2 separate regions of the Homo sapiens genome follow, and region 1 is linked to region 2. Evidence: fine-mapped expression QTL. A gene starts in region 2. The other region holds a variant in brackets. All regions are shown on one strand. Distances are from middle to middle.

Region 1 (2,500 bases), 110 kb before region 2:
GGGTTCTGGCTCAGAATACAGAAAACGCAGGGCCAGGCAGAACCTTAGAGAGTAGCTCATCCAGGCCGGGCGCGGTGGCTCACGCCTGTAATCCCAGCACTTTGGGAGGCTGAGGCGGGTGGATCATGAGGTCAGGAGTTCAAGACCAGCCTGACCAACATAGTGATACCCCGTCTCGATTAAAAATACAAAAATTGGCTGGGCATGGTGTTGCGTGCCTGTAGTCCCTCCCAGCTACTCAGGAGACTGAGGCAGGAGAATCGCTTGAATCCAGGAGTTGGAGGTTGCTGTGAGCCGAGATCACGCCACTGCACTCCAGTGTGGGCAACAGACACTTTGTCTCAAAAAAAAAAAAAAAAAAAAAAAAAAAAAAAGAGAGTAGCTCATCTGACTCCGTAATTTTATAGCTGAGGAAACATCCAGAGAGGTGGAGGGGCTTCTGCAGACTAGAGGCCAGACCATGCCTCTTGCCTCCCAGGCCAGGCTCTTTCTAGCAAGCCCCAGCATTGACTTCCAAAACTGGGACTGGCTGACTGGTGATAGGGCTTGGCACCCAACACTAGCCTGTGGTGGGAGCAGGGCATCCCTCAGTAAAGGGGCCTCCTCTTTGATGTCCTCCCATCTGTTCCACATCCCTAGTGGGGGAAGGGAGCCTCTCTGGTCCTGAGGATGCCTGGGCGTTTCCAGATCATCTCACTGAGGCTCTGGGTGTTTTGACAGAGCTATTCCCAAGCCAAGGCTTTCGGGCTACCTCTCCTTCCTTCCTTGCTGTGAAAATGGGGCTGGATGGGACTTTAGGGCCTACCCAGGAGAGGGTGGCTCCCAAAGGGGCTAGAAAAGGTATAAAAGGGCCAGTTCCCAAATGCCTGCTTTCCTGACCCAGATCACAAGACAAAGCAGCACCATTGTTTATCCTCTCATCCCACAGTCTATTGGGGGATGCTCCTGCCCAGGTGGCCCCACATCCCTTAAGCCCAGCTTTCCTTGGGGACAGGGGTGTAGCGGAATAG[T/C]ATGGCTTGAGACAGGGATGTCAGGCGGGAATCGGCAGGCAGCAGGTGGGCACCTGGCCACAGCAGAGCCTTGCCTCACAGCGCGGCTCCTCCTGACCCAGCTGACCGCGTCTCCTTGAGTGGCCCAGGGAAGAGCTTCAGGGACCTTCAGGCAGATCCTCCCACCAGCAAATGTTAAGAGGTAGAATGCAAGGCGTTTAATGAAAAAAAAAAAATGCAGAGGAACAATTCCTCTAGCCCTGGAAAATTCGTTTGAATTGCAAGCTTAAAATGAACATAATAGGAGTGAAACCCAAATCCTCTGGCTTTCACCAGAACAGCCTCACAGGGAAACAAATTTAACTGTGTTCCAAATTGGGCCAGGCTCCCACTATTCCACTGCAGGTGACAGTACCATCCAATGGTAGAGGGCCCAGCGGCTTCTCCATTCCTGTGACTGGCAGTATGGCTTGGAAGAACACAGAGAGAATGGCTGAGCCCCAAAACCCCACGTCATAGGAGTAAAGCCGCCTCTTCTCGAAATGCCGTTATGAAGCCCGAGGGAATTTAAGGCCCACTCAGGGCTGGGAGGACCCTAAGACCAGACGGGTCTAGCAGAATCTGGCACATGACAGCCATTGCCCAGCAATGCCACTGCCCCTCCCCTAACAGCCTCCTTGTGGTTGAAAGCTTTGGATACCCTTGCTAGCAAAATCAGGTTAGACAAAGGAGAGGTTAGGATCAGAGGGACAGAGCCTTTAAAACCTGCTCTGTATGGCTGGGAGAACTCCCAACCTAAGAGTGGCTCTGCCCCTCCCTCTGGACATAGAACCTCCCTGAGGACCAGTCTCCATCCCAGACCTGTCCTGCTTTCTGGTGGTAGTGCCAGGCCTAGGGTGTGGGATTCTGCTCCACGTGTTTTCTGCTTGTTTAAAGGGTCCTCCGCTTTCCATGTTGAGTCCAGTTTGCCCTGAGCTCTTTGGCTCTCTCCTTAACATCGCAACCCCTACCCGTGCCCTGTAGAACAAGTGCCATACAGGGAAAAATCAGAAACAGATGACTTCCCCAGGAGTGGCCAGCAAACCTAGCAGGTGCCTGGCCTGGGGCAGGGTCGGTCACTTTCAATGACAATGGCAAATGGGGTGGAGGGTGGCACACACTGGGCCAGGCTCTTTGTTCCCCTTAGGAGGTGTCCTGAGTGGATTCTGGGGCTAGCACCATCAGGTGTTCATGGAGGAGGCAGGAAGGGCTGGGTTGGAGGAAAGCAGTGCATTATTCCTCCCTGCCCCCTGGTGTGTCCATTAGGTTGGCCTGTGCACTGGGCTGAGACCCTGAAATATAACAACTCAGGGATGCAAGGCCACTGGCTGATGCTCCCCTACCTGGGAGACAAAGACAGGCCCAGGAAAGAGGCAGCGGGGGTGCAGGGAGGCTGCTCTTACTGACATTTCCACAGAGCACAAGCTCGCTCTAGCTCCCTCAGAGCCTTGCAGCTCAAAGAAACTTCTGGC
Region 2 (3,004 bases):
CATCAACTAGCACTGTCAGTCCCAGTGCCTGTACTTCGGGCCTAAAGGGGTGAGCTTCAGTTCAGTACCTGACTCCCAGTCCTCACAGCTGGCTCAGGCTCAGTCTCCCAACCCCCTCCCTCAAACCTGGGGATGCTTCGCAGGTACAGCAGGAGGCGGATGAGTTCCTGGCTGCTGCACTCAGACTGAAGCCAGGCTGGGCTGTGGGCACACAGAAGCAGCACTGCCCGGCCTTGGACATCCCGAGTCCCTGTGGGGAGGAAGCAGTGAACTCCTGCCGTATTGGGCCACTCCACCTCCACCGCCTCTAGGCCCGCCTGGCTACCTGGCAAGGTGGCCATACCACTGGCCAGCAGCTCCCAACAGAGGTCTTGGGCCAGGAGGCAGTCAGCAGGCTTAGGGAGGCCGGATCCACTGGGGGCTTGGGAAGGGAAATGACTTGGGTCTGCCTTGGACCACCTATCCAGAGACCCCTACTTGGACCCGGGCTTCAGCCTGAGTAGGGTCAGAGACCTCCAAAGTCTTGACACTCATCTCTCCAGGCATCCCCATTCCCTTCCCAGACTTCCCTAGCCCAGCCTTCCTTACCTGCCTCCAGCAGCTTTGATATTTCTGATAAAGGGTCTCCAAGGCCCACAGGGTCGCTGTCCAATGCCCCAGGGCTCAAGCCAGATGGCATCGCCCTGCTTGGACCTGGGTCCCCTACCAACCCTACCCCTGGGGTGTCACTCTCACCCTGTGCCAAGCTGAGGTGGGAGGACATGGGGCATAGGAGACTCTCCACTCCAGAGGGGCCTGGCCCTTCTGACAGGACTGAGGAGCTTTCTACTGTGCCCCTCTGGGCATCCCCCGACTCATCTGCAGCTGGGGGTAACTGGAATTTCCTGGACAAGGGGCTGCCCTGTAGCTCCTCATCCTGGGTGGCCCCGGCTGGTGGTCTTGGAGGACCTGGGTCCTTAACGTGCATCTGGGAAGCAGGTTCCTCCTCTTCCCAGGCATCCCTGAAACTGCACACAGCAAATCTCCAGTCGGTGGCATGGCCCTGAGAGTCTGGGGACTCATCCCCATTCTCCAGGGGCCTTTCCATCACGCCCTCCTAAAGGTGGGCCTGCTCGGGGCCAGCGGGAGAGGGCTGGGTCTCAGTGTGAACCGCGCTGAAGACAGTCGAGTGGGACTCAGTGGGCAATGCAGGCGAAGGGCATGGGCCGCAGGAGGTGCCAGTCTTAGTGCCAGGGCACAGGAACTGCAATTCAGGCCTGGGAAGAGGGAATAACGTTAAGGGTGTCCCTCTGTCCAGGTCCCCCGTCGGACGCCCGTGGGCCTCTGCTCCGTGCGCGCCCACCCTCAGCGTCCTCACGGCCACGCTCTGCAGGCCCATGCCCGTGGGGGCGGCCCCGCCATGGCACCACGATGCCTCGGGTTCGCTCTCCTGCCGGCCCCCCCAGGCCCTGGCCTTGTTGCAGGGCCTACCGCGCGCCCCCCCGTCGCCCGCTGGCGACACTCACGCCCCCGGGCCGAGCCGCGGGGAACCGTGAAGTCGGACAGCCTTCGAACAGACGGCGGCCTCGACGGCCACTACAGCGCGGCCGCGCGGCGTCACGGGACACCGCCTCCTGGCCGCTGGGAAGGGAGGGCAGTGCCGCCGGGGCGCCGCGCAGCGCCGCGCCGCCCCCTGGAGGCCGGAGGACGGAGCCACAGCCCGAGCAGGTCTCGACGGGGCACAGCCCTGCCGGCGCGGAAGACAAGGTGCGGGCCCTGCAGCAACCCCCGCCCGCCGCCGTCCTCTCCGTGGGCCCGGACAGCCCGCCAGCCCCGCCCCGCCGCACCCCCGGGCCCCGCAGACCGCGCGCCTCACCCGCGGCGTCGCAGTGCGTGGGTTGGGGCAGCGACCAACGGTCGGCAGCTCCACCGTGCCCACTCCCCGGGCCTGGCGAGGACGCCGGAAGCGCTCTCCCGCCAGGAAGGCCGCGTGGGTGAGCGAGGGTGAGTGCGCGGGGGGCACCGCGGGACGGGGCGGGGCGGGGTCTCCCAGGGGCTTCCGCGGCTGAATGAGCCGACGGGAGGGGAAGGCCTTCTGTGTAGGGAAGCGGGGTGCTGCCTCGCCGCGGGCACCCAGAGACAGGTCGCATGATCCCACGTGGGATGGGGCTGCCATCCGGGTGGGAGTGAGACCAATGGGTGGAGCTGACCCAGGCCTGCCAGAGTCCACCAGATCCTCTACCCCTTTGCCATCCCTGGCACCCCCTTACCCCCTTCTCCACAAAGTCCGGTGCAGGAGGCTGGTGCTGAGGTGGGGTTCTGGAGCCAGAGCCCCCAGCCCAGGCCTGGCTTCTCCACTTACCTGCTGGGGGCGCTCCAGGAACTCTGCTCTTTGAGCCTCACCCTCCTCACCTGTAAAAATGGAAAGTCATTTTTCTCCTGGGGTTGCCGTGAGGACTGGGGAAGACTCCCTGTGTTATACGTTCACCCGCTGCCAGCACTCGGGCTGTGTTGGTGCCCTGCCCCCTCATTTCACCCGCAGTCAGGGAATCCTGAACTGATGAAAGCTACCCAAGTGGGTAGCTGTGCGATTTGAGGTCCCTTTAGGGCATGTGGGCCTGGCCCGACACTCCCCAGAATTTGTGGGAAGATTGTGGGAAGGTCAGCTCTGCGACCAGGAGAAGACCCTGAGCCCCACAGTGTGCCCAGGCCCATGGTCCCTGGGGAGAGGGGGCACCGGGTGCAACGGCTTCCCTGGCTCTAAGGCAGGCACCTCTTTCATGAACCTGGGGATTACAACAGGCACAGTGGGACCAACAGCAATCTCCCCACCCAGCCCAGCCCAGCCCCCAGAGTCCAGACTTTCAGGCAGCTACCGAGGAGCCTTCTTCATGAGCAGGTCTGGCTGCCAGAGGGGAGCCTTGGAGTTGTCCTGCTCCATCCCTAACTCCCAGCCAGACCTCTCTTCCCACCCTCCTGGCTTCAGGAAGCATCATCCAACCTTGGCTTCCTCCCCAGTTCTGTC

Evidence for each region. PIP is the estimated chance that this variant, and not a neighbour inherited with it, causes the effect.
Region 1: its variant is fine-mapped to the expression of PLEKHG4 in whole blood (TOPMed, PIP above 0.99).

What each region holds. Positions count from the first base shown.
Region 1 is chr16:67,386,901-67,389,400 of GRCh38, reverse strand. No RefSeq gene overlaps it. Among named protein-coding and RNA genes, the nearest start is that of TPPP3, 5.3 kb to the left of the region's middle. The variant T/C (reference allele first, on the strand shown) is at 1,011.
Region 2 is chr16:67,278,128-67,281,131 of GRCh38, reverse strand. PLEKHG4 (pleckstrin homology and RhoGEF domain containing G4) reads right to left here and starts at 1,600. Exons shown (of 22, transcript NM_001129729.3): 1 at 1,506-1,600; 2 at 589-1,256; 3 at 326-421; 4 at 127-250; 5 at 1-41. The coding sequence starts at 1,087. LOC124903701 (a long non-coding RNA gene) reads left to right here and starts at 1,721. Exons shown (of 3, transcript XR_007065092.1): 1 at 1,721-1,983. RefSeq lists silencers at 1,567-1,748, 1,468-1,897, 1,948-2,107.